Linked DNA regions of Homo sapiens. The protein of the gene in region 3 purifies or fractionates together with the protein of the main gene of each other region. This does not show direct contact. Each region holds a gene or a part of one and is shown on either strand. Other genes may lie near its edges.

Region 1 (11,314 bases), on a different chromosome or scaffold from region 3:
GTGGTCTCAAACTCCTTGTATGATTCTCCCCAGGGTCTGAAAGCTTAAGGGGATGAGTAACCCCTCCCTTCCCAGGCCCAGTCCCAAGGCGCAAGGTCACTTGTGTCAGCAGTGTGCGCCAGCAGGATAGCAGAAGCAGGAAGAGAGCCGGCTGGAAGACACGTACCCCCGAAGATCGAGAAAGAGGCCATCCGGGTACAACGTAGCAGTTACGTCAGACTAGGACACTTCCTGTTTACAGGAGACTGTAAAACCTTTGCCCCGTCCTCACTTGGTGCTGACGCCATTTTAAGCCTCGGCCTTCCTGCACTCAGGCGCACCCAGGCGCTCCTTAAAACAGCTTATTGCTCCACACCTCCTCGTGTTGTCTGTGGACGCGCTCTTGGGGTTGGAACCGATACAAGAACCTTACACTGCTGGGCTCAAGTGATCTGCCTGCCTCGGCCTCCCAACGTGTTGGGATTACAGGCGTGAGCCACCACGCCTGGCCTATTCTTTTACTTTTTAAAATTTTGTGAAAAACTAAGACACAAACACACACATTAGTTTAGGCCTACACGGGGTCAGGATCATCAATATCACTGTCTACCACTTCCACATGTTGTACCACTGGAAGATCTTCACGGGCAAAAACACACATGGAACTGTCACCTATGATGATGATGCTTCCTTCTGTAGTACCTCCTGAAGGCTCTGCCTGAAGCTGTTTACAGTTAACTTTTTTTTTTAAAAAAAAGTATAAGTAGAAGGAGAATACTCTAAAGTGATGATAAAAAGTATAGTATAGCAAGCTGGGCACGGTGGCTCACACCTATAATCCCAGCACTTTGGGAGGCCGAGGCAGGCGGACCACCTGAGTATTGACTTTCTCTTTATGTTGGATTTAGGAGGAGGACAGGACATCTTTTTCTTTGCCTGTATCCCAGGGATAGGAGCAAAAAATTTCTAAGAATAATGACTTGATCAAAGAGATTCGGGGACTCTAATCCCTTTCAGTTCAGATGTTTTAGAATAATTTTCATGCCTAAAGACGGTGATTTACTTTTATTTTTATTTTTAGAGATAGAGTCTCTCTCTGTTGCCCAGGCTGGAGTGCAGTGACGTGATCTCACCTCACTGCAACCTCCGCCTCCCAGGTTCAAGCGATTCTCGTGCTTCAGCTTCTGTAGTAGCTGGGATTACAGGCATGTGTCACCACGTGCAGCTAATTTTTGTATTTAAATTTAGTAGAGACGGGGTTTCGGCATGTTGGTCAGGCTGGTCTCAAACTCCTGGCCTCAAGTGATCCGCCTGTCTTGGCCTTCCAAAATGTTGGGATTACAGGCGTGAGCCACTGCACCCAGCCAAAATATGTGATTTTATGTCTTCTAGGAAAATAGTGTAAAATTCAGCACGTTAAGAAGCTTTTGGTTTTCTGAATTATGTTTGACATGTTATTGTTGACAAACAGAGGACTCTGATTAATAGCTCCAGGAAGCCATCACTATTGTTGCGAGTTTAAAGGTTAAAGACCCAAGATTTAGGAAGAGTTAACACTAAATAATCCTAGATTCTGACTGTTTTTCAGGAAATAAATCTTTATATGTATTTGTGTTCTCTATATATACACACATACAGTAGGCTAATATACATATACATACAGTAGGCTAAACTTAGGCTACACATTTTTTTAAAATGCTTGCTTTCTTCAATAATAAACTAACATTAGCATACTGTAACTTTGTAACATAAACTTTTTAACATTTTAAACCTTTTTGACACTTTTGTAGTAATATTTAGCACACACACACACACACACACAGTAGGGTAAACTTGCATCCAAGTTTGCCTAGAACAGTCCTGGTTCATGTCTCTTGTCCCAGTGTAATTATTAATAGTATATACTTTCACTCTCAAAAATGACCCAGTGTAGGCCAGGCGTGGTGGCTCACTCCTGTAATCCCAGCACTTTGGGAGGCCGAGGTGGGTGGATCACCTGAGGTCAGGAGTTTGAGACCAGCCTGGCCAACATGGTGAAACTCTGTCTCTACTAAAAATACAAACATTAGCCGGGCGTGGTGGCACACGCCTGTAGTTCTGGCTACTTGGGAGGCTGAAGCAGGAGAACTGCTTGAACTGGGAGGCAGAGGTTGCAGTGAGCTGAGATTGCACCACTGAACTCCCGCCTGGGTGACAGAGTGAGACTCCATCTCAAAAAAAAAAAAAAAAAAAACCCAAAATCAAAACAAATGACCGAGTTTATGACTGGGTGTGGTGGCTCACACCTGTAATTCTGGCACTTTGGGAGGCCCAGACAAGAGGATCGCTTGAGCTCAGGAGTTTGAGACCAGCCTGGGCAACATGGCAAGACCCTGTCTCTACTAGAAATAAAAAAAATTAGCTGAGCATGGTGGTGTGCGCCTGTAATCCCAGCTATTTGGGAGGCTGAGGTGGGAGGATCGCTTGAGCCCTGGAGACGCAGGTTTACAGGGCTGGGATTACAGGTGTGAGCCACCACGCCCGGCCACTTAGTATTATTATGTGTAATCATAATATTTTACTCTCTACTGAAATGACATGAGGCTGAGCTTCCCGTGCGCATGTGGTTTTTGTAAATGTCCTGAAATTATTCCACAAAGCACATATAGCGAAAACACAGTGAATTCTATTTGGACTGGAAATCTCATAGTGGAATGAGATATTGGCAGTGGAAGTGAGAGGAAAGGGATGGTGACTGTTAGGAGGACAGGAGTGCAATAGGTAAGAGTGGACCAGTTCATTTATTTGTTTGTTTATGGAGCTGAGGTAGGAGTCTAGAGGCTGAGAACAACTTTCCTCATCAGCTAAGGCCTGGACTATTAGGGAAGACAATAGGGATAACCTGGAGGGATAACTTGGAGGTGTTTCAAAAAGTACCAATTCACCACCGTAGCTGCAAATCTAGCCTGGTGAGACTAACTACAATTGGCCTGAGTCCAAGTGAACTGAGCTTTTATTTGAGCCTACATGTTTTAGTCATTACAAGAGTGCTGGAAATAATATCTCTGCATTATTCCCCTTATAAAAGATTGCTTCCCATCATGAAAACATGTTATTATGTTTGGCTGAGTGCCATTATCACTTATAAATGCTTAATAGATTGAAAGAAAGACAGGGCTCTACTAGTGCCAGAAACACAAGCTAAATATTTTATTAGATTTTAAAGGAGAAAAGTGGAAAACGTAAATACTTCAGTACAAATCCATGACTCGTCTAAGAGAGCCAACTTTGGCATTTGGAGCCCCCCAATCAAGAAACCTCCTGTACTCCCCCGGCCTCAGCAGATACTGCCTCCCCCTGTAGTTGGGCATCTCATAGAGGATCCAGCTGCCCTCCAGCACATTGAGGGAGTGAATTTCAGTGAGGTGGAAGCGGTCCTGAACAGAGATACAGTCGTCTGTGAGCTCTGACATTTGTCCCCTCAATTCATCTCTGTCGTAGATCTTCATTCTGTAAGCGCCAGAGTGCTGGAGTGGCAGACAGAAAACGCAAGAGTAAACAAACAAAAACAGATGGAAATTAAAGCTCCAGTCCCTACACCTCCCTGGCCACACCTGCCCAGAAGTTCTCCCAGGCCAAGTTTGCTTCTAGAACAACCCTGTTGCAAAGTTAAGGAGCTGTCACACTCCCCAGTCACCCACCGCTGAGTCTAATGATTCATGGGCAGAGCTAGGGCTTTGGGAATTAAGATTTGCTTACAATAAAATATCACATCACTTTAGTGCCTGTTATTTGAGAAAGCCTTTCTCAAAGGAGAAAACTGAGAGTCATTGGAAAGTTAAATGTCATATTATGTATATACAGTGAAAGGAAAATAAATCTTGGGACCTCAAAATCACTAAGCTAAAGGGAAAAGTCAAGCCAGGAACTGCTTAGGGCAAACCTGTCTCCCATTCTATTCAAAGTCATCCCTCTGAGGCTCACCTGAGACAAATGCATCTCTGATTGCTTCCTCTCCCCTATTGTTTATGTAAAGATGCAGAGTCATCGAGCCAGACTAAATTGTGTATTCAGTGGAAAGCTGATCAAGGGCTCAAAGAACCTTTTGTCTCTTATCTACTGTTTTTTTTTTTGAGACAGAGTTTCGCTGTTGTTGTCCAGGCTGTAGTACAATGGCGCAATCTCAGCTCACTGCAACCTCCACCTTCTGGGTTCAAGTGATTCTCCTGCCTGAGCCTCCCGGGTAGCGGGATTACAGGCGCCCACCACCACGATTAGCTAATATTTTGTATTTTTAGTAGAGACGGGCTTTGACTATGTTGGCCAGGCTGGTCTTAAACTCCGTCAGGAGTTCAGGCGATCCACCCACCTCAGCCTCCCAAAGTGCTGGGATCACAGGGGTGAGCCACGCGCCCAGCTCTGTTTCTTATCCATGTCTAACCAGGAAGCCCCTACTTCCTGTCTTACCAGACTGAACCAATTTACAACTTATACATATTGATTGATGTCTCATGTCTCCCTAAAATGTATAAAAGCAAACTGTACCCCTGACCACTTTGGGCACATGTCTCAGGACTTTCTGAGGCTGTGTCATGGGTGCATCCTCAACCTTGGCAAAATAAACCTTCTTTCTGGGTTTTTTTTTTTTTTTGAGATGGAGTTTCACTCTTGTTGCCCAGGCTGGAGTGCAATGGCGTGATCTCGGCTCACCACAACCTCTGCCACCCAAGTTCAAGCAATTCTCCTGCCTCAGCCTCCCAAGTAGCTGGGATTACAGGCACGCGCCACCACGCCCAGCTAATTTTGTATTTTTAGTAGAGGTTTCTCCATGTTGGTCAGGCTGGTCTCAAACTCCGGACCTCAGGTGATCTGCCTGCTTTGGCCTCCCAAAAGTGCTGGGATTACAGGCATGAGCCACTGTGCCCAGCCTTGGCAAAATAAACTTTCTAAATTGACTGAGACCTGTCTCAGATATTTGGGGTTCACTATTATATGCGCACGCACACACACACACACATATATGTATTTGTTTCTTGAGACAGGGTCTCCCTCTGTCACCTAGGCTGGAGTGCAATGGCATGATCATGGGTCACAGCCCCCTCAACCTTCTGGGCTCAAGTGACCCTCCCACCTCAGCCTCCTGAGTAGCTGGAACTACAGGCATGCACCACCACATCTGGCTAATTTTCAGTTCAAATTTCTTTTCTTTTTTTTTTTTTTTTGAGACGGAATCTTGCTCTGTCACCCAGACTGGAGTGCAGTGGCATGATCTCAGCTCATTGCAACCTACCCTTCCCGGGTTCAAGCGATTCTCCTGCCTCAGCCTCCCAAGTAGCTGAGACTACAGGCGCGTGCCACCAAGCCCAGCTAATTTTTGTATTTTTAGTAGAGAGGGGGTTTCACCATATTGGCCAGGGTGGTCTTGAACTCCTGACCTCCTGACCTCGGCCTCCCAAAGTGCTGGGATTACAGGCGTGAGCCACCGCACCCAGCCTTCAGTTCAAATTTCAACCTATCTGACTTTTAAGCTTCCTTTCTAGCCTCCTGCTCTCAACTTATTTATTTCCCTCAGCAGCAAGTATCACCTTCATTAACTTCTGTTTTTATGACACTGTATCCCATGCCTCCCACACACCACAATTCTAAGAATTCTGCAGTCACTGCCCAGAAAATATGGAATCTCAAACTTTAGTTTCAGATTTGGCCTTTTCTCTAATTTATACCTCTAAGTGAGCTAATAGGTACTGACCATTAAATTAGAATAGAAATCAGAAGACAGGATCCTATCTTCTCAGGAGGAATAATCAAATAGAAAAGTAAGACAAAGCAAGCAAAAGTTTGTTGTTGTTGTTGTTGTTGTTGTTATTGTCGTTTTGAGATGGAGTCTCACTCTGTCACCAGGCTGGAGTGCAGTGGCACGATCTCGGCTCACTGCAACCTCCATCTCCCGGCTTCAAGCAAGCAATTCTCCTGCCCCAGCCGCCCGAGTAGCTGGGATTTAAGAATAATGTGATTAAATAGGCCGGATGCCGTGGTTCACACCTGTAATCCCAGCACTTTGGGAGGCCGAGGCGGGCGGATCACTTGAGGCCAGGAGTTCGAGATCAGCCTGGGCAACATGGTGCAACCTCGTCTCTACTATGAATACAAAAATTGGCTGGGCATGGTGGTGCATGCCTGTAATCCCAACTACTCAGGAGGCTGAGGCAGGGGAATTGCTTGAACCCGGGAGGCGGAAGTTGCAGTGAGCCGAGATCATGCCACTGCACTCCACCCTGGGGGACAGAGCGAGACTCCGCCTCAAAAAAAAAAAAAAAAAAAAAAAGAATATCATGAAATAGCTTTTATTTCCAAAAAGATGGAAGGCAAAGACAGAGCCACACTCACCGGGGGGATGAGGCAGCAGGAGCGGATGGAGTCGCTGAGGCCCATCCATTGCTGGTAGTCAGGGTACTCCCCACGCCGCAGGAAGTACTGGTGGCCCTGGTAGTTGGGGCGCTCATAGATCATCCAGCAGCCGCTCTCCACCCTGATGGAGTTGCAGCGGCTGAAATAGGGTTGTAGGTTGGGGCAGTCAGTGGTGCATTCGTAGCTGCGGCCCTGGAAGGCCCTGTCCTCGTAGAAGGTGATCTGAAAAATGGAAGATGTGGGAGCATGGAGTGATTGGCCCCCACTGAGGCCACTGCATTAGGGCCAAGGCTGAGCATCCGGTACCCAGGACTTACCTTTCCCATTTTGAAGGAAGTGAGCAGATGTTTTCTGGTTGCTGTGTGGGACTGCGGGAACGTCACTGTATGTATAGCAGCCCTGACTGCTGCCTCCACAGGAAATCACACAAAAGGGCCCATTTTGGTGAGTAAGGGGATTTGCAAGCTCGCTGCTCTCCGTGCCCAGGTCACTGGGGTTGGCTGAATGGTTTACTCTCATTCTTTCTGGTAGGTTCGGGTTGTTCTAATTCACTAAAGCTGTTGTTGCCATCAAAATGAATAGAGTACACTTTTAGTTGAGCAAAAGGATGGGCGAAATTCTGTCTCTGTGCTTTTATTTTATAGTTTACTCTGCTTAATTGACTTCTCAAAAGTCATTAAACTAAGTAATGAATTCTGCTCAGGGACTGGTGGTGTTTTTGTGTGTGTGTGTGTGTGTGTTTTAGTTCTAAAAGCCAGAATTTAAATAGTAAGGAATCTTAAAGAAGAGGGAATCAAGTGAAGTAATCTGTGAAAGTGTGTTAAAACCCATAAAGCTTAGTTCAAATTCAAAATTCTGTGATCAGCCAGGCGAGGTGGTGCACACCTATAATCCCAGGACTTTGGGAGGCTGAGGCAGGTGGATTGCTTGAGCTCAGGAGTTAGAGACCAGCCTAGGTAACATGGTGAGACCCCATCTCTACAACAAATACAAAAATTAGCCCTGCATGGTGGCGCATACCTGTAGTCCCAGCTATTTGGGAGGCTGAGGTGAGAGGATTGCTTAAGCTCAGGAGGTCGAGGTTGCAGTGAGCCATGATTGCACCACTGCACTCCAGCCTGGGCAACAGAGCAAGACCCTGTCGCAAAAAAAAAAAAAAAAAAATTCTGTGATCATCATTGTTGGTGTTTGGGGGCTTGTCTTGAATAAAACTGATACTTGCCTGGAATTTTGTAGGCTTCTGGGGGCTGGGTATTATTTCTTGTTCATGTCTATCCCTGAGCCCTAGAGCAGAGGGTTGGCACATTGCAGGTCCTCAATAATTGGCTCTGACCTGAGCAAAAACAGATAGTTGTGGCTTTCTTCCCCCTTTCAGATCTTCCTAAGGGCCTAAATCCCTCCTTCTGCTGGTGGCTGTCCAGAGTCCTGCCTGCTGTTTGGTGTTCCTGCTCTGCCTCAAATGTTACCACTAAGTGGCTGATTGGTCTTCTCAAGGCATGGGACCAAAAGGGCTCAGAGTTGGTCCCTATTGCTGGCAGATTGGACATTCTACAGTGGAAATAGCTGGATTAGCCTTAATAAGTAGAAGTTAATGCATAGCCTTCATCCATACCACTATGAACGCTCTCTTAGTGAGCTCACTGCCAGCAGTAGGGTGGCTGATGGCAGACGCTGACTGGAATCAAATGACCAAATCATTTTTTCTACTTGGTTGTTTAGTGCCTCTTCAATGGTGGATGCCCTACACTGGGCCTTCACATGGGATACAACTATCTTCGCCCTTTGTGCCCAATCCCATATCTCCCTGCACATTCCTCTACCCCAGACCTTCTTGTCCCTAATCTTCCAATCTTTCTCCTTCCAGGCCCTGGACCAGCCAGCCAAGCCACACATTACTGCTCAATAATTCCATATATGCTTGACCTTGGGCTACTTTTCTTTCTGCACCGAGTGAGCAGCCAGGTGCACTACCTCAAGGTTGCCTTTTGGGAGGATTTCCCTCACTGCTGTCTTTAGGGTGACTCCTGAGTGAGCTATTCTGCAGCAGCATTCTATTTTGGGCTTGTACCCAAATGCCATGCCAATTTATTAGTGTATCAAGCTCAGCCTTCCCCCACTCTATCAGCTGGTCAGAAGGGACCCCTGCAGGCAGTTGTAAGTGTGAGCTGAGAGAGAGCTATTGCAATAATGGTGACTTCATCCCATCCCGCAGGGAAGGCTAGGGCTAGAGTTGTCAGGAACTTAGGCAAGTGGACCGGGAATCTGTGCCTCTGCATTGCCCCGTAATTTGATGTGGGCTGCTGCCATGGAGAAGTGTAACTTTGGGCAAGGCAGCTTCCTCCAGCAGAAGAAAATTCTTGGAGACAAACTCAGCTTTAAGCTGTCAGCATCTGGGAGAAGGAGTGCTTCAGTCCACAGTGGAAGTCCAGGCAGCACCAGAGCGTCCACTACAAGAAGAAAATAAAGCTGAGATAACTGCAGTTAACATTTTGGTGTTTCATCATCCCAGCTTTTTTATATGTCAAACCCATGTGTGGTTGTACAGTGTTATTTATACTGTGTAGCATTCTCTTGTTTTCTTCTAAGTCACCTTTCAAATAAAGTGATTAGTAATACTGATTAAGGTGATCACATTTAGCCTTTTAATACATATATATATATTTTTTTTGTGAAGAGAAACTGAATGAAAAATCGTTCTAGACTCTCTATTGGTTAGCTATACCCATGCTTGAGGTCTAGGCAGTATTCAGGAGAATATCATTCACCCAGTGGACTCACTAAAACAATGTAAACAGTCTTTATGTGCTGAAAGTTCTAACTCTTAAAGAGACTAAATTAACAACCCTGTTTGATGTAAGACCTAACATACTCAGTGTGATGCATAGGTGGGTGTTTGAGGATCATGATGAACTATCATGTAGTGAGCATTGATCTGATTTAAAATTACCCAGATTTTTATCTGCAGGATGATGTTTAAGTGATTGAGGACCCTAGAGTAACTTCCTTTAAGTCATACAAATTCAACCAGTCTCTGGTTCTGATACGTAGAAGAATCAGTAATCCTATGAAAGAAAGATAAACTAAGTATTAGGAACACAAAATCAAAATCTCATTGATTCTAATAGAAGAAATTGAAGGATTAAACATATTTCAGCATCAGTTGTGACTCTTCTTGAAGGGCTCACTTTGACATTTGTCTTCCCCTAGTGGTGAAATTCCTGTTTTCTTTGGAGCCTCAGTAGGAATTTTCTCCCCTACAGTTGGGCATCTCGCAGAAGATTCAGGGTCTTTTATAAGTCTAGGGATTGGGAGAAGATATCCTTGAAAGGAACTAATCATGTATGTGGGAATAGTCTTCAGGGAGCCCCAACATGAGGCCTCCTTACCTGGTACTGGGAGCTGGTCACTTTTGAAAAATAAAAGAGAAGAAAGAAGATGAAAAATAGAAGAAAGAAGAAGAAATTAGTGCATGATCTTGTTATTATGGCTTTATAAGATCTTATATAATGTATAAAAGCCTAACTGAAGATAAAATTTGTTCAGTGCTTAGATTACACAAATCGGAGAGTCTGCCTTTGACTTGGCACGTTAATGAGCATTATAATTCAGGCACATTAATGAGCATTATAATTCAAAGAGCAGAATTACCTGTAATTAACCTGGGTTTTCACCATAGTTTGTACAAGGAGATAGCTACTTTCTCCCTACTTCTCACGAGACTGGTGGCTTCCTCTTCTGGCAGGGGGCAGGGCCCCTAATATCCTATGGGCCCCAAAGATCCCATTTGTCCCAAAGTTTCTAGGTGCAGGGAAGCTGGTGTTCCCAGAGAGCTGTAAATAGCTGATACTGTCAATCCAGGCAGCTTGTGTATTTCTCCCACTGACTTATGCTACACTCCAAAAAGGGAAATCTGTAGGGGGCAGGGGTCCCTCTATTGGAACAGAACCTACACAGTATCCAGTAGATACCCAGGCCCTAGCATGACTCTCCATAGCCAGATAAACAGTATGGAGTGCTTATAGGCTGGCTCAGGCCCATTCCTTAACCTATCTCATGTGACATTGAAGAATTTGTTCCAACCTCTTGCACAACTAGTGACAGCCCTAAACAAGCCTTGAGGCAAATTGTTATATTGAGACTATTGGGGAATCAAATTAAATACTTAGAAAGAAAATATTGGTTCAAGAGGTTGGTGAAAGAGCTTCATCTGCTGTTTCCAAAGTCATGGGAATGTCTGGGCCTTGAATTCAAGTCCTCTCAGTTGCATAGTCAGCTTCTGCTATTGGAGTATCAGGCACCTAGGCTGGTTAGAGTTGTAGGAGGGGAGAGTGATAGTTTCAGGGCCTGCACCATTGCTTGGTGGAGAAACCAACACTTGAAAACAATACCACCTATGACAACCTATCCTGCTTGTCCCATGGTCTGGATTTCACACTGCTTCCTCTAAAAAAATTTTGTTTTTCATCACAATACTAACAACCACTGGGAAATTGTTGACTAGGCACTATTTGTGGAGAATACACTCAGGGGAGCAATAGCTACACACATCTACTAACTTTTACAGTTTCTGTAACTGCTTGTGAAAAGTCATTTAACTTCCCTAAGCCTCAGTTTCCCCATTTATTAAATAGGAATAACAATGAAAACCAGATGAGACAATGGATTTGAAAGCATATGACAAATTGTAAAATATTGCCAATGATTTAGAAAATAGTGTCATATATATTGTTAAAGAAAAAATTATCACACTTGTTAAAGTGGTAAGGAAGACTGTTCAGAGAGGGCCATGGTGATAGGAATAGGGATCATTGCAATGGGGTTTTGCAGTGGGGAAGAGAGATTGTACTCAACTCTGACTCCAAAAAGGATGAATGGGGATTTACAACCTAGGAGTGGGGTCAGGGGCAGTGGATGGAAAATTACTAAGAGGAAACACCAAGGATAAGAG
Region 2 (11,033 bases), on a different chromosome or scaffold from region 3:
CAGAGGGTCACAAGTTCCCTCCCTCCCTAGGAACCCAGGCTATTTATAGAGAAGTCAGGCTGGATGGGGGAAGGGCGAGCCTCTTAGGCTCTAGCGGCTTCTTAGGGGAGAGTCCTGGGGTGAGTCTGGACTCACCTAGCATGGCCCTGCCCTCCCACGTCAGAGATCAACACCCACCCTCACCACCTAGCGGGAGTGTAGGGCAGTGGAGACCATGGGATTTGCCTCCCGCCTCCGCTATGGATTCAGGTATAATATTAATTTCCCGGAGTCTCAGTTTTCTCATCTGGAAATGGGTGCTTCCTATGTAGTCTCCTGTATTCCTCACCACCACCTTCCAGCCCCTAACCACGAGCCCGCCACACTCAGTGAAAGCGGCTCCCACCGCCTTCTGCACCCCACACTGTCACCTAGGGAGCCACTGCGTCTCGGTTGAGCTTCTAGCTTTCTCCTTCACCTGGTAGCTCCTTCCCCTAAGTGTCTCCCACCTTAAGTGATCCCTGATGGTTCCATCACCCTCCTCCCTCTTCTTCCCTTTGTAATTAACCTCCTTGAAAGGGCGTCTATGCTCCTGGCCACCTCCTGTTTTGGTGTGAAGACCTACATGTCTGAGTGGGGTGAGCTTATTTATTTTTATTTATTTATTTATTTTTTTGGCAAGGGAGTGGTGGGGAGAACAGGGTCTTGCTCTGTCACCCAGGCTGGAGTGCAGTGGCATGCTGGGGTGCTCACTGCAGCCTCAACCTCCCAGGCTCAAGTGATTCTCCCACATCAGCCTCCCTAGTAGCTGGGATTACAGGCACTCGCCACCATACCCAACTAATTTTTGTCTATTTTGTAGAGACAGGGTTTCTCCATGTTGCCAGGCTGGTCTTGAACTCCTAGGCTCAAGCAATCCTCCTGCCTTGGCCTCCCAAACGGTTGGGATTACAGGCGTGAGCCACTGTGTCCGGCCTATTTTTATTTTTATTTTTAGAGATGGGGTCTTGCTATGTTGTCCAGGCTGGTCTCAAACTCCTGGGCTCAAGTGATCCTCCCACCTCAACCTACCGAGTAGTTAGGACTACAGTCATGTGCCAACACACCCAGCTAAGGCTTTTTTTTTTTTTAATTAGGAATTTTCTCACCCAGTTCTTAATTCAGAACACATTTTCATATACTTATTTTTAAACGTTTTAGAAGAATCAGTCTGTGGTGAAGCTGGGTTTTCCTGCTTGAATGCAGTAAATACCCATTTGCTGCCAGTAATTACATAATTATGTAAAATTATGTGCTCAGGAGAGCTGTCTACTAGTGTTCTGGAATTATCATCAAAATGAAATAAAGTTTATTTAATAGTAAAATTAATTATGAAAATAATCCTTTAATCAGGCATAAATAAGCTAAATTTAGTCGGAAAAACCCTAATGTGATGGGTACCGGGCCTAGCACGGTAATTCAAAATGACTGCTGAGGCCAGGTGCGGTGGCTCGTGCCTGTAATCCCAGCATGTTGGGAGGCTGAGGCGGGCTGATCACTTGAGGTCAGGAGTTTGAGACGAGCCTGGCCAACATGATGAAACCTTGTCTCTACTAAAAATACAAAAATTAGCCAGACATGGTGGTGGGCGCCTGTAATCCCAGCTACTTGGGAGGCTGAGGCAGCAGAATTGCTTGAACCTGGGAGGCAGAGGTTGCAGTGAGCCGAGATTGTGCCACTGCACTCCAGCCTGGGCAACAGAGTGGGACTCTGTCTCAAAACAAAATAATAATAATAATAAAATAAAAATACATAAAATAACAGACTAATAGGACATTTTCTCTGTACCTGTGACTTGTAAACTGAGACCAGAAATCTTTTTTCAGTAATGAGGTTGGTGGCGGCATCTTTCTCATCTCTAAGTCCTCATTGCTCGCCCTCCCCGGGACCCTAGTGCAGACTGGCTGGCTGGCACTTAGGGACCATGAGTGCCAGCCCATGGGCCCCTGCAAGCCAGTGGGTCAGGGCTGTTGAAGCCCCACCCTTCCCCTAGGACCCTGCCCTCCCACCCCCCAGTCTGTTTTTCTCCTCTCTCTCCGACCTCTCTCCTGTGACCTGCCAGGGTTTTAACCACCCAATCAGCCAGCCCATCAAAACCTCAGCACGGTGACACCTCCAGCCCAGACCTCTCTGCTGAGCTCAACCAGTAGCCTCCTCCAGGCTCTCCTGGGAGACCCTAGCACTCACCCATCATCCCATACCCTTCCAGGTGGTTCAGGCCCTTCCCAGTCTCACAGTCAGCCCCCAACTTGGTTCTGCACCCTGCAGGCATAGCTAGAGACCATCCCTCCACCTCCCCACAGCTCAGCTCTCTCCTCAGCCCTCCCTGCACCCAACCACTGGAGTCTCAGAGGTCTTCCTGGACCTTTGGGCTCTTCATCAATGACCCCACCACCCCCCAAAACCCCCCAAGGGAAAAGGTGGTGGAGGGGTGCATCTCTCCACCTAAGGCTCCCAGAGGTCTGTCCAGGGATGTTCTGATGGCCCTGCCCTCCACCCAGCCTCCTGTCTCAGGGTCAGGGCTCTGCAGACATCTGCAAGAATTTTCTGGAGTCTTCCATCAGCTCCTTCTTTTCCCTTCACTGGATTTACGATTCTCGAACTCAAGAACCCTGATAAAATCAATGCAGCCTCCCTCCTCATTCCCGGGAGCCTGTGCCTTCATCTCCTACGGCGTCCTGCACCTCCGCCTGGGACGACGCCCCACTTTCAATAATTCCGGCCATCAGTGCCCTTCCTTCAGGGCCATCTCCAGCGCCCCTCCTCGGGGATGGTCCCAGGCAGAGACCCTCCAGTTCCACGTCCCTCTCTCTGCCCAGGCCGGTCCCGTCAGGGTTGTGGGAGTCCCCCATCTCCCTGCACCAGCCTGACCCCCAGGGGCTGGGCTAAGTTTTAAGAACACACTCAATAGGTTGGACCCAGAGCCGCGTGAGACCTGAAGGTTCCAACTTTCCTGTCTCCCACTCTGAGAACCTTGCCCGCCCTGAGGCCAACCAGACCTCCTGAGTCCACCTCCCACGGCCTCCCCTGCCCGTTCCACACACCCCGATATAGCAGGGACCCCCGATGGATCCTGTCGGCGCGGCCCCCACGCTCCTGCAGGACCCCCGTCCCCAGAGTGGACCCCCAACAGGACCCCACACCGCCTTAACCAGGTTCCAAATGTGCTGGGGTCCCCAGTCCCCTCTGTGGGACCACGACCCCTCAAAAGGATCCCAGACCCCTAAAAGGTCTCGAGGGCAGAATCCCCAGAACGCTTAGGGGCTTCTAGTCCCCCTGGGTACAACTCCCGCCGACTCCCTCGGAGGTCCTGTAGCGAGAGCAGGGCTCCCAGAGAGGGACACACGGCCTTCAGCGTGCCCCCGAATCCCTCAGAGCCTCCAATCCCCAAGAAGAAACCCCAATCCATTCCCTCAGTGTCTCCCTGGACCCCTTCGGCTGGACCTCGGCCCTGCAGAACCCCCCACTTCGCGGGACGCTCGCTCACCATGACGCGTGCGAGAACGCGGTGCACTCACCCACCGGCCTAGGGCTCCGGGCACTCTGCGGAAACTCGACCAATTAGAGCCCGACTCTGGTCTGACGAGCATCCCGTCCGACCAATCAGTGTGTCTTGAGCCGGCAAATCACCAGGGACGAGGAGGCCGCTCGCGTTGCATGCCGGAAATTGTAGTTCAGATACGCTGGTTCGGATCGATCAAAGTGAAGATTGTGTCTGGGAGGCCTGCGTGGCCGACCTCTCTTAAGGCTTAGTTTTCTCTTTCCTACACTTATCTCAAAGGTTTGCAGCGAAAGCATTTATTCCCACCTAAGGGACATTTCTGAGAGTAGAATTCCCTCCCCCCATCAAGAACATTCAATGGCTCCCACTTAGTAGACGAAGTACTTAGTACTCCTAAGTACTAAGTAGGCTAAGTACTCAGACTGAATTCAGACCCTTCTGCCTGACTTAAATCTGCTGCTAGCACTATTGTGCACCCTATAGTACAACTTGCACCCACCATGCTGTCTCATACCTCCAGGCCTTTGTAAATATCCTACATCTTGCAATGCCTTCAAGAATGCCTCAATCTTAAAATAAAAACAAAACAAAAGCAAAAAAGAATGCCTCAATCTTTTTCACCTGGCAAGTGCCTTATTCATCTCTATCAGCTAGGACTCTGGCTGTGCTCCACAAAATATCAACTAACATGGGTTCAAGCAAAAAAGGAAAATTTTTGGCTCATGTGACAGAAAATACTAGCCATAGTGTCAGCTTCAGGCGTGGCTGGATCAAGGACCAAATGTCAGCTTCAGGGATCTGATGTTCTTTATTTCACCGCTAGGAGGAAAGGGCTTCTGGTGTTTGTGCCCCGGTTTTGCCATTTGTCTTTCTGTGGATGAGTGTGTCTGCCTGAGTGTAGACATATATTGGGTATGACTGAGTGTCTGAGCATCTTTATGGGGGTGGGTTCCTGTGTGTGGGGCCTGAGTAATTACCTTTTCGTTTTTACATTTTATTATGTATTTGTGTATTAATTTTTTTTTTTCTTGAGACGGAGTTTCGCTCTTGTTGCCCAGGCTGGAGTGAAATGGTGTGATCTTGGCTCACCGCAACTTCCGCCTCTTGGGTTCAAGTGAGTCTCCTGCCTCAGCCTCCCGAGTAGCTGGGATTACAGGCATGCACCACCACGACTGGCTAATTTTGCATTTTTAGTAGAGATGAGGTTTCTCCATGTTGATCAGGTTGGTCTTGAACTCCCGACTTGAGGTGATCCGCCCACGTCGGCCTCCCAGAGTGCTGAGATTACAGGCGTGAGCCACCGGGCCTGGTTTATATTTTATTTTTTTAACTTTCGGCTGGCAAGTGCTGAATCCTAAGCGCACTATCGCACGCCACCTCGTGGTGGAGGGCAAAAGCGCAGTCTCCCTGGGATGGAGAAGTCAAACCAGTCTCACTTGTGGCCCTGGGGGCTCCCAGCCTTAGAAAGCGGCCCATAGTTTTATGGACCTCACACTGGGTGCTTAGCCTGTGGGCACTAACATCAGGGACTGGCCTGACTTCTTGTCCACCGTGAGGGTGAGATCCAAAGGCTGGGAAGGCTCTTTCTCTCTGGCCATGCCTCAGTTTCCCCCAGGGTACCCGCTACCTTGACCCTTTTCCTCTTGCTCAGTCCCTGGCCCTGGTCTGGATGTGCGGGGTTGGGGTGCCAGTGAGTAGGTAGGTCTTCAGCCCATGTGGAAGGAAGGCCAGGATCATTGTCGGGGAGGTCCTCAGAACAGAAGGGTGGGTAACTGGCTGAAGAGTTTGCATCATCTGTGCATGTAGCAGTGGCGCTGCTGGAGGTGGCAGGAGCTGCATGCTCAGCTGGACCTCCACAGCCATTGATCACTGCCATGAGGACCGTGGCTCACCCCTCCTGAGTGGGGAAGGGACAGAAGGGACCAGGTGGGAAGTGTTGAAGACTTGAGTCCAGCCAGGCATGGTGGCTTGGCGTATGCCTGTAGTCCCAGCTACTTGGGAGGCTTAGGCTGGAGGATCGCTTGAACCCAGAATTTTGAGACCAGCCTGGGCAGCACAGCAAAACACCCATCTCTAAAAAAAAATTAAATTAAAAAAAAAGTTAAATTAGCCCAACGTGGTGGCTCAAGCCTGTAAGTCCCAGCTACTCAGGAGCCTGAGGTGGGAAGATTGCTTGAGCCCAGGAATTTGAGGCTGCAGTGAGTCGTGATCATGCCACAGCACTCCAGCCCTGGCAACATGACGAGGAAAAAAAAAGAGGCTGGGTGCAGTGGCTCATGCCTGTCATCCGAGAACTTTGGGAGGCCAAGGTGGGAAGATCACTTAAACCCAGGAGTTCCAGACCAACCTGGGCAACATGGGGAAACCCAGACTATACAAAAAATACAAAAATTAGCTGGGCAGGCTGGGCACAGTGGCTCACGCCTGTAATCCCAGCACTTTGGGAGGCTAAGGGGGGCGGATCACAAGGTCAAGAGATCAAGACCATCCTGACCAATATGGTGAAACCCTATTGGGTTTCTACTAAAAATACAAAAATTAGCTAGGCGTTGTGGCTCACGCCTGTAGTCCCAGTAGTAGTCCCAGCTACTGGGGAGTCTGAGGCAGGAGAATCACTTGAACCCAGGAGGCAGAGGTTGCAGTAAGCTGAGATCTTGCCACTGCACTCCAGCCTAGCTGGGCAAGGTGGTGTGCACCTGTAGTCTCAGTTACTTGGGAGGCTGAGGCAGGATTGCTTGCACCCATGAGATCAAGGCTGCAGAGAGCTATGATTGCACCACCGCAGTACAGCCTGGGCAATAGGGCAAGACACTGCCTCAAAAATAAAAAAATAGGCCAGGCGCAGTGGCTCATGCCTGTAATCCCAACATTTTGGGAGGCTGAGGTGGGAGGATCACTTGAGGTCAGGAGTTTGAAACCAGCCTGGCCAACATGGTGAAACCCCATCTCTACTGAAAATACAAAAATTAGCCGGGTGTGGTGGCAGTCGCCTGTAATCCGAGCTATTTGGGAAGGACGAGAATCGTTTGAACCCGGGAGGCAGAAGCTGCAGTGAGCCGAGATCCCGCCACTGCACTCCAGCCTGGGCAACAGAGTGAGACTTTGTCTCAGAACAAAAAAACAAAAAAAAAAACCCAATAATAATAAAAACAAAATTAGGCCAGGAGCGGTGGCTCACACCTGTAATCCCAGCACTTTGGGAGACCGAGGTGGGTGGATTACCTGAGGTCAGGAGTTTGAGACCAGCCTTGCCAACATAGTGAAACCCCGTCTCCACTAAAGATACAAAAAATTAGCTGAGCATGGTGGCACATGCCTGTAGTCCCAGCTACTCAGGAGGCTGAGGCAGGAGAATCGCTTGAACCTGGGAGGCAGAGGCTGCAGTGAGCCGAGATCGTGCCATTGCACTCCAGCCTGCATGACAGAGCGAGACTCTCTCTCAAAACAAAAAACAAAAACAAAACAAAATAATAAAAATAAGTAAGTAGAAAAGAAAAAGAAAAAAGACCTGAGTCTGGGTTGGGTGAGCGAAATCTCTAGCCGCACTTGGACACTCTGCAGAGGCTTCAAGTTCACCCCATCCAAGTCTCATTCCCTACAAGCTTCCACAGCACAGAGGATGAAATGGGAGCTTCCAGTCACCCACGGCACGCTCTTCCCTTCACCTCCACCTCCGAGCCGTTCTGGAGTCCTGGTGGGTTTGCCTCCACGCACACACAGAGAGTGATCATTCCAGGGGGCACTGCCTCCCCTCAGCTCCCAATGCCCCCTGCCACGGGAGCCTGGGGAGGGGCTTTTACACACTTTGATCATGCCATATCCCTATCCTGGAAACTGGGGCCCCAAAGCCCCCACCTCACTGGGGATGAGGGTGGCGAAGATGACGTAGGACAAACCTTAGCTGGGGTCTGGGGTGCAGATGGCATCCTATACTCCGCCGTATAAACAAGTGCCCCCTCCGGGTTCTGTCACTTATATACTTTGTCCAGTCTCCCTATCCCTTAAAAGGCGTCCCGCCCATCATCTTGTCTAGGACTGTGTGCGCTAAGGGTGAAATGCAAGGTGCTCAGTTTTACTGAAGAAATCTCTCCCTGGGGCGCTGAGTGACAGAAAGGATTTTGAAATTGTCAGTCAACGTACCCCGCCCATTCTGGCTGAGCTGTGCCAACCAGCTCAGCTTTGGATCTTGGCAGAGTGATTGGAAAGCAGGTGAGTTTGTTTGTTTGTTTGGTTTTTGAGATAGAGTCTTGCTCTGTTGCCCAGGCTGGAGTGCAGTGGCGCGATTTCGGCTCACTGCAACCTCCACTTCCCGGGTTCAAGTGATTCTCCTGCCTCAGCCTCCTGAGTATCTGGGACTACAGGCACACACTACCATGCCCGGCTAATTTTCGTATTTTTAATAGAGACGAGGTTTCACCACATTGGTCAGGCTGGTCTCGAACTCCTGACCTCAAGTGATCCACCTGCCTCAGCCTCCCAAAGTGCTGGGATTACAGGTGTGAGCCACCATGCCCGGCCTGTTTTTGTTTTTGTTTTTTTACTCTTTGAGACGGGGTCTTTTGCTCTGTTGCCCAGGCTGGAGTGCAGTGGCTCAATCATGGCTCACTGCAGCCTTGACTTCCCGGGCTCAGGTGATTCTCCCACCTCAGCCTCCTGAGAAGCTGGGACTAGAGGTGTGCACTGCCACGCCTGGCTAATTTTTTTTTTTTTTTAAGAGATGGGATTCACCATGTTGCCCAAGCTAGTCTTGAACTCCTGGGCTTAGGCCATCCTCCCACCTCAGCCTCTCAAAGTATTTGGATTACAGGGGTGAGCCACTGTCCCCGGCCAAGGCGGATCTTGTAAGTCTTGATCTCAACACTCATGTTTTCCGTCTTCCTGTCCAAATCTGTGAACTCCAACTCACAAAGGTGTTTCTCAGCTTGGGACAGTGTAGAAGGCGTCATGGAGGAAGAGAGGCAGAGCTGGGCCTTGGAGGGTGGGAAGGAGTTTAAAAAGGAGACAAGTTGGGGGTTGAGGGAGGCGCTCCAGGAAAGACCAGTAGGGTCACATGTTGGTACTGCAAATATTTCTAAGGTACTGGAGAGGCTGGGACAGGGATAGGAGACCAGGCCAGACTAGGGTAGGGCAGCTGAGGAGCCCAACTTCCTTCTAAGGATGAGGAAAAGCTTCAAAGAGATGAGCAGAACATGGCAGAGGCAGATCTTTTAAATTTTATTACTGTTATTTTTAGAGACAATGTCTTGTTCTGTCACTCAGGCTGGATTGTAGTGGGCTGGTAATAGCCCACTGCAGCCTCCAACTCCTGGGCTCAAGGCATCCTTCCTCCTCAGCCTCCCAAAGGACTGGGATTACAGGCAAGAAGTAATTTTTTTTTTTTTTTTTTTTTTGAGACGGAGTCTTGCTCTGTTGTGCAGGCTGGAATGCAGTGGCACGATCTGGATCTCGGCTAACTGCAACCACCACCTCTTGAGTTCAAGTGATTCTCGTGCCTCGGCCTCCCAAGTAGCTGGGATTACAGGCATGGGCCATGAGGCCCAGCTAATTTTTGTATTTTTAGTAGAGATGGTCTCAAATTTCTGGCCTCAAGTGATCTGCCCGCCTTGGCCCCCCAAAGTGCTAGGATTACAGGTGTGAGCCACCGTGCCCGGCTAGAAGTCAGTTTTTTATGTTGTCGTTGTTTTTGATGTTATTTTTGAGATAGGGTCTCGCTCTGTTGCCCACGGTGGAGTGCAATGGCTCAATCACAGCTTGCTGCAGCCTCGACTTCCTATGCTCAGGCAATTCTCCCACCTCAGCCTCCTGAATAGCTGGGACTACAGGAATGTGCCAGCCATGCCCAGCTAATTTCTTTTTAAATTTTTTGTAGAGATCAGGGTGTCAGTATGTTGCCCAGGCTGGTCTCAAACTGCTGGGCCCAAGCCATCCATCCACTTTGGCTTCCCAAAGTGCTAGGATTACAGGCTTTGGCCACCGCACCCGGCAAGAAGTCAGATGTTAAGTATTATGAAGATCTCACTGAATGCCATGTATGGTGGCTTGCACCTGTAGTCCAGCTACTCTGGAGGCCGAGGTGAGAGGATTGCTTGAGCCCAGGAGTTTGAGAGCAGCCTGGGCAACATAGTGAGGCCCCAACTAAAAAAAAAAAAAAAATCCCACTGAGACCACCTGGGGTGCGTGAGGCCAGATAGACCCTGCTGCACCTCAACTATTTTCTGGGAGCACCCCTGACCTCAGGACACCCAAGTCTGTCTTCACACACAGGACAAGCCAGAGTGGGGGCAGTTTGCAACCCCAGGAGTGGGTATATAAACACCCTGCTCTCTTGTCCCCTGGGTAGAATCAATTGCTGGGTCAAGGGCTCAAGAGATACACCCATTCAAAAGATGAGCAGTCGGCGAGGCTGGGTGGCTCATACCTGTAATCCCAGAACTTTGAGAGGCCCAGGAGGGCGGACCACCTGAGGTCAGGAATTCGAGACCAGCCTGACCAACATGGGGAAACCCGTCTCTACTAAAAATACAAAAATTAGCATGGTGGCAGGTGCTTGTAGTCCCAGGCACTCAGGAGGCTGAGGCGGGAGAATCCCTTGAACCCGGGAGGCGGAGGTTGCAGTGAGCCGAGATCGCACCACTGCAATCCAGCCTGGGTGACACAGGGAGTCTCTGTCTCAAATAAAATAAAATTAAAATAATAAAATAAAAAATAAGAAGATGAACAGTTCAGGGGCGCTTCCAGCGCCCTGGGAGCCCGACATTCAGGATTCCCAGCTGCTGCTTTTGGGAGCCCTACGACCCAGCCCTAGGGCTTGCCCCTGAGCCCATGACCCACAGCGCCGGGAGCAGCCCTGGCCATTGGCCCTGGAGTGGAAAGAGCCGGGGCCCTCACCCCTGGAGTGGGACCATTCTAGGTGCACGCTCACTCTATGCTGTCCCCAGAACCCCCCGCGGGCTAAGCACCCTCTGCTTGTGCGCGTCCCCTGCAGGGCTCCTCCCGCCTTGCCTCCCCAACCCTCCACCTGGCAGCCCTCCCGGACACCCCACGGGCTCTTGAGTCCTCGTCTCAGGGCTTCTGGAGGGGGCACCCCAAGCCAAGACTAGGCAAGAATGAGGCGAGTCACAGTCAGTCTGGTCCACGGACGCCACGCGCGTTTTATTTGTGGATATACACACAAATAGGAAGAAGGAAAGGAGCCCCCCAGGGTGGATTGAGTCCAGCCGCCCACCTCCAAGCCCCCACCGCGGAGGGGGGCGTCACTGTTGGGTCTTCTCTGAAGAGGCCTGGAGGGAGGTGGGGTCCCCACGTGCCCTCGCCGTACCTGGCGAGCGCTCTGGGCTGGTGCCACCGGGTGATCTCCTACCGGGGCCAGCCGTCGGCCAAGGGCAGCCGGCGCAGGGCGGGCCCAGGCCGCAGAGGCTCTGCCAGGGACCGGGCGAGGAGCAAGGGATAGGGGAAGGTCTTAGGAAAGTCGCCGGGGCCCCCGGGGGCCGGAGAGAGGCGCTCAGACTTGATG
Region 3 (6,009 bases):
TAAATTCACGACTTAAGGGAAAAATCCTTTGTCATCCTGTGTGTTCTAATTTTTGCTTCAAATGACTAGGCATCTGCTAACTCCAGGTTCTGCAAAATGCTCCGGAACTTTCCAGCTTCCACGCCTTTGCCCATGCTGTCTCTCCACATGGGCATCTCTTGCCCCTCGTCTCTACTCTCTACCCCTCTCGCCTGGTGTATTTCAATCACCAGGTCATCCCTCAGGCCCCTGACATCTCCATCCTTGTCCCCAGCCCCTAGCTCAAGGTCTAGCACAATTGGTGCTTAACAGAAAGAGGGAAACTTCCTTTCCACTGAATCCTACAGTGATCTGTCTGACCATGGATCTCTCCCCTTGCCTAGATGTGACACCCTCCAAGGCAGACCCTGTGTCTGATCCACTCCAATATCCCCTTGGCATATAACACTACAGCACCTAGCACACAGTAGGTGCACAGTTGCTGCACAACTAATTCAGGGAGTGAATCCTACTGTGGAAGAGAAATAAAGCGGCTGTCACCCACCCTTCTAGGTCCTGCCTCTCCTTTTCTTCCTTTTTCTTATCCAGGAAAAAAGCAATTCCATTGTGAAGACAAACTAGGTCAGATTCCCTCCCTCCCTCCCTCCCTCTCTCTGCCCTGTGGTCTGGCCAGATACATTCTTCCCACGCCTCTCTGAGCCTCCACTGGCATTCTGTAAGTGTCAGAGATGCTGTCGGGTGGTCTGTGTCCCAACCCCACCCCACACTCATCTCTGCCCTGAGTCCTGCTGCCTTGAGAATCTGCTGGAACACTGAGGCCTCCGTGCCAATGGCCCCTCTCTCCACAAAGAACAGGCAGGGAACAAAGGGTACTCTTCAATTTCAAATAATAGACATTAATTTATTAAAGCTAAATCTTAATTTTTTTGTATGACAGTGACTCCGAAATCAGAAAAAGTAACAGACGTGCCTGCCTGACTGTATCCCAGAAGGCTGCAGCCCAACACTTTCTTTTTTTTTTTTTTTTTTTTTGAGACCGATCATCCAGGCTGGGCTGGAGTGAGTGCAGTGGTGTGATCTTGGCTCACTGCAATCTCTGCCTCCTGGGTTCAAGCGATTCTCCTGCCTCAGCCTCCCGAGTAGCTGGGACCACAGGCATGCACCACCACACCCGGCTAATTTTTGTATTTTTAGTAGAGATGGGGTTTTGCCACATTGGCCAGGCTGGTCTTGAACTCCTGACCTCAGGTGATCCACCCACCTCAGCCTTCCAAAGTGCTAGGATTACAGGCATAAGCCACCGTGCCCGGCCAACACTTTCTTGAGTCTATGGTTGGAGTCTGACCAGAAGTGCCTCAGGGAACCCTGACGCACCCCCCCTTCTCCCCACATGGTAAGCATGCATGCTGGGGGAAGGGGCACCTGACCTGGCATTCCTGGTGGCATGGATCCTGGAACCCTCCCAAATCACCTGCACATGTTCATATGCACACTTTTCCAGGGGGAGGGGGTGTGTTCACCATGTTCTTGGGCTTTTCTAAGGCACATGACTCCAAGAAAAGTATGGGAACCGGTGTAGGTAGGGTTGCCAGATTTAGCAAACAAAAATATTGCTTGGGATGGACTTGTATTAAAAAGGCATTTGTGGGCCAGGTGTGGTGGCTCATGTCTGCAATCCCAGCACTTTGGGAGGCCGAGGCGGGTGGATCACTTGAGGTCAGGAGTTTGAGACCAGCCTGGCCAACATGGTGAAACCCCATCTCTACTAAAAACACAAAATTTAGCCGGGTGTGGTGATGAATCCCTGTAATACCAGCTGCTTGGGAGGCTGAGGCAGGAGAATCACTTGAGTCTGGGAGGCGGAGGTTGCTGTGAGCTGAGATCACACCACTGCACTCCAGCCTGGGTGACACAGGGAGACTCCGTCTCAAAAAAAAAGGCATTTGCAGTTTAACTGTAATTCATGTTTAAATGAGAGTCTTGGATTTTGTGTGGCAATCTAGACCGGTGAGTGAGACCTGTGCAAATGTAACATAGCCCATGCGCTATGGCCATTCATTCATTCATTCATTTCCCCCTCATCCCACCACCATCACACCCTGAAGGAGACATTATAGGTGCACAGTCCTGTGCCAGGCTCTCCAGGAAAACAAATGACCCCACAGTTGCCCTATTGAAAACACAGAGACCTGGTCCCCAGCCTCTGTCCCACAGCCTCCCACTGCACCCGTCCTCAGGGATACTGATCTGAAAGCAGCACTGGCACAGGGCCTCACTGGCACACAGCTAGCGCCAGGGGTGATGGGTGACAGCTGAAGGGGCTGCGGCCCACCCACGCACCTTGATGAGGAGGCCCAGCTCCTGGTCGCTCACACACGGATGGGCCCTCAGGAACTTCTCTCGGACCTCCCCCAGCTCCCTCTGGGCCTGCTGCTCGTGGGGCTGCTCCAGGGCCCGGAACACCAGGGCACCAGACACCAAGTAAAGCAAGACCAGCGCCAGCAGGGCCAGGAGCGTGGTGCTGCGCATGGCGCGCCCAGGCGCCGGGCCAGCTCCACTGCCCGCCTGGAGGGGCCGGGCGGGGGGCTCCTGGGGAGCTGTCGTCACTGCGGGCAAAACCAGGGATGCTGGGGTCACTGAGCTGGCCTGACACCCACACCCTCCTCCTCTATCCCCTACACACCCAAAGATCCATAAAGCCCCCAGCTGCACTGTCCACAGACATCCCTCTGGCTGGACACACCCAGTCCCCCTCCTATCTCCAGCCTTCCCCTTACCTCCGCTGCCCGGCCCTCAGCCCCTGTCTGGGACTACCGGGTGAGGAAAGAGAGGAGGGCACCGAGAAGGGAAAGGAAGGCGAGTGGGAGGCCGAAAGAGAGCCTAAGCCTGCCTAGGGGGAAGCGGGGCGAGCGAGGAAATGTGTGGAGCTTGGTGGGGGTGCGGGGAGCTGGCCCTCGAGGAGGAGGCTGAGGGGGCTCGGAGGCGTCCGAAGGGAAACCCGGAGGAGAGGCCGGACAGCGCAAGGCGGGGACAGGGGAATGGTGGGTCCCTGCTCGCCCGCTGCGGCTGTGACAGCATCTCCGCGGCTTCTCCGTCCCCTCTCGCCTCGCCCTGCTTCCTGGCTGGCCCTCCAGGGTGCCCCCGCGCCCCGCCGGGCTTTCGAGGAACCCAGGGGCGGGTCCCGGCCGCCGCACCCAGGCGAGGAGGGGTGCTGGGGACGCCCAGTTCCCGGAAAAAGCGGGGCGGGGGTCCGCAAAGGCCACACCGGGGCGACAGCCCCCGAGACAGCTGTCAGTCCGAGACAGCGGGCGGCGGCGCCCACGCGCACACACGCCCCGGCACGCGCCGCCAAGCGCGGGCACAAAGACCCGCGCGCCCACGCTCCATCCCGAGGCTGCAGCGCCGCGCCGCCCCGCTGCACGCACGCACCCCACCTGCACTCTCCGCAGACGCCCCGGCATCCCCGGCCCCCATGGGCGTGCCGGCCGCGCCAGGGCACCCAGAGCCCACGCACACGTGTGTGGACACTAGCGTGCACACGCCAGACAGCAGGGCCACCGCGCAGCGCCCGCAGCTCGCTCCCACCGCCTCCCCCGCGTCCGCACAGCGACGCCTCGGAGCGTGGCGGGCGGCGGGACCGGCGGCCACACCACTCCCGGAGGCGCCCACGCGCGAGAGGTGGGCACCCCGCCCGGCCAGTCGCCCCTGGGGCGTCCCTGCCCCTGAGTCCTGCCCGCGCACCGGAGCCCGCACCGCACTTACTGTCGGCCCCGCTGCGGCTGCGGCTGAGGCCCGGGTTCCAGCACGGCCTCGCCGGTGCCGACTGGGCCGCGGAGGCGGCAGGGGCGGAGCGGGCGGCCGCCGGGGCTGGGACCCCCCTCCCGCCGGCAGAAGCCCCCCTCCTCCCGCGGTTAACCCCTCCGGCGCCGCGCTTCCCTCCGTGCAGCGCCCTCGCCGCCGGCGCCGCCCCAAGCCGTTTACCTGCGGCCGCCTGGCTCCCCACAGCCGGCCAGCCCCGGGAGGTGGGTGGCAGAGGAGCCGGAGAGGGGTTGCAGCAGGGGCCAGCCTTCTAGCCTTGGACCGGAGCCCAGTGTGGCCAGCGGCAGGGCCCCGACCTGGGCATCAGCTGGCCCGTCTCTCCGGACAGGCACCACGCTAATCTGGCATCTCCCAGGCCCATTACCGGATCGGGAAGGGTCCGCAACTCTCCGCCCCTGGGGACAGCCTGGCCCTTGGGCTCAGCACTCATGAGGGAGGGGCTCCGCGGGACAAAGGGGTGGGGGAAACCCGGTGGGGCCACCTGGAATTGGCCGACGTGGAGGTTGGGACCCACCTCTGGGGGAGTTGCTGCTGGAGCACCTCCTGCCCCCACTCCAGGTTTTGGCCCTCTACCTGCTCCCCGGCTATCCCTCCAGGGTGCTCCCTGCCCCAGCTTTTGGTTCTCACTTCCATGCCCAGAAATCAGCCCCGGAAGGCTGTGGCTGAAGCTGCCTGCAGATCCCAGCATGGCACTGGTGCCAGCATCCACTCTCCCACTGCCTGAACACCCAGGCCCTGGCTGGTCCTGAACTTGCCCCGCCCTGTTCTCACCCACTTGACAACCTGTGACCTCTCCAAAGACCCTCTGGTGCCTGCTGGGGTCCTCAGCCCTCATGCTGGATGGCTTTCAGCCTGGGCTTTGAGGCTGACCACCCGCTACTGGTAGGGAACCTGAACAGGTTACCAAACTCTGGAGTCTCCCTGTTCCCACTTACAGAAAAGGGATGATTAATCATCACTTCGGGGTGCTGTTCTGGGCATTAAGGAGGCCAGTGTTTAGAAATCCTCAAAACAGAGCCTGGCACACACAATAAAGTGCCCCACAAACGTTAGCAGTTTTTATTTCAACAAAAAGTGATTGTCCAGCTTCAAGCTGATTCTCTATGAGTCTCAGATGCCCTCTCTGGAGGCCCTGAGGGCCTGGTGCCCAGGATGGTCCCAAGTAAAGGGTTTTGAAGCAGGCCCAGTGATAAGCCAAGGGAACTCTGAAAAGCTGGGACAACCACCTATGTGGGCAGGGGACAGACCCTCCAGCAAAGGACTCCTAGCCATCAGACAGACCTGCCAGGGCCATGGAAGCAGAGGGCAGTGACTATGCTACTAAGGACAGTGGAGAAGAGGGCTAACGGGAGGGCATAGCTAGGGGACCACCTGTACATCTGGGCAAACCCACGCCCTGGTAGGAAGATGGGGGCTGCTCAGTCACTGCGCCAACTCCCCAGCAAGCCCTGGACTAACTCCTGACTCCTAAAGACCAGGTTGGGGTGGTGATAGGGAAACAGGGCCTCCAGAAAGTCTAATCCATTGGGGTTAAGACTCAGAAGCTGCCAGGCATGGTACCTCATGCCTGTAATCCCAGCACTTTGGGAAGCTGAGGTGGGTGGATTGCTTGAGCCCGGGGGTTCGACACCAGCCTGGGCAACATGGTGAAACCCCACCTCTAAAATTAAAAATTAAAAAATTAGTCAGGAATGGTGGCATGTGCCTGTATTCCCAGCTACTCGGGAGGCTGAGGCAGGAGGATTGCTTGAGCCTGGTAGGTTGAGGCTGCAGTGGGCCATGATCGTGCCACTGCACTCCAGTCTGAGTGACAGAGTGAGACCCTGCTTCAAAAAACAAAACAAAACAAAGAACCTCAATGGCCACATAATCAGTAATGTGGAGCTGTGGGGCCCAGCAGAGGGGCCATGTCCCTTGACCAGGAGACAGAAGGCTTCCTAAAGGAGGTAACAGTTGACGCAGGTCTTGAGGAAAGAGTAGCAACTGTTCAAGTGGAGAGGGATCTGGAGGTAGTGGGGCAATTCTGGGCCAGGAGAGCTTTGAGAACAAAGGCCTGTGTGGTCTCCTTCCCTTGCAAACTGCAGGCCCCTCCTCTCCCAGCCCACCAGCCTTGATGGGGTAAGTCACCCCTGCCCAGCCTAGCAGCCCACTTCAAGGGCTAGTGTCTGTTCAGCCTTAGGCCAAACAGGCAAAAGTGATAGGAACACAAGG

What was found.
Region 1: the proteins of KCNK4 (region 3) and CRYGB purify together in Homo sapiens (affinity purification with mass spectrometry; one large-scale study listed by BioGRID and IntAct). This does not show direct contact.
Region 2: the proteins of KCNK4 (region 3) and TMEM161A purify together in Homo sapiens (affinity purification with mass spectrometry; one large-scale study listed by BioGRID and IntAct). This does not show direct contact.

The regions. Positions count from the first base shown.
Region 1 is NC_000002.12:208,139,429-208,150,742, forward strand, and holds CRYGB (gamma-crystallin B), read right to left. Parts: upstream 6,731-11,314; 5' UTR 6,693-6,730; coding exon 6,684-6,692; intron 6,589-6,683; coding exon 6,346-6,588; coding exon of another isoform or gene 6,340-6,345; intron 3,486-6,339; coding exon 3,210-3,485; 3' UTR 3,145-3,209; downstream 1-3,144. UniProt on the Homo sapiens protein: Crystallins are the dominant structural components of the vertebrate eye lens.
Region 2 is NC_000019.10:19,134,921-19,145,953, forward strand, and holds the start of TMEM161A (transmembrane protein 161A isoform 1 precursor), read right to left. Parts: upstream 3,559-11,033; 5' UTR 3,509-3,558; coding exon 3,506-3,508; intron 1-3,505. Other genes in the region: BORCS8-MEF2B (myocyte-specific enhancer factor 2B), read right to left, coding at 10,774-11,033; MEF2B (myocyte-specific enhancer factor 2B), read right to left, coding at 10,877-11,033. UniProt on the Homo sapiens protein: May play a role in protection against oxidative stress. Overexpression leads to reduced levels of oxidant-induced DNA damage and apoptosis.
Region 3 is NC_000011.10:64,289,518-64,295,526, reverse strand, and holds the start of KCNK4 (potassium channel subfamily K member 4), read right to left. Parts: upstream 4,226-6,009; 5' UTR 3,961-4,225; intron 3,806-3,960; exon of another isoform or gene 3,742-3,805; intron 3,530-3,741; exon of another isoform or gene 3,409-3,529; intron 2,586-3,408; 5' UTR 2,509-2,585; coding exon 2,320-2,508; intron 1-2,319. UniProt on the Homo sapiens protein: K(+) channel that conducts voltage-dependent outward rectifying currents upon membrane depolarization. Voltage sensing is coupled to K(+) electrochemical gradient in an 'ion flux gating' mode where outward but not inward ion flow opens the gate.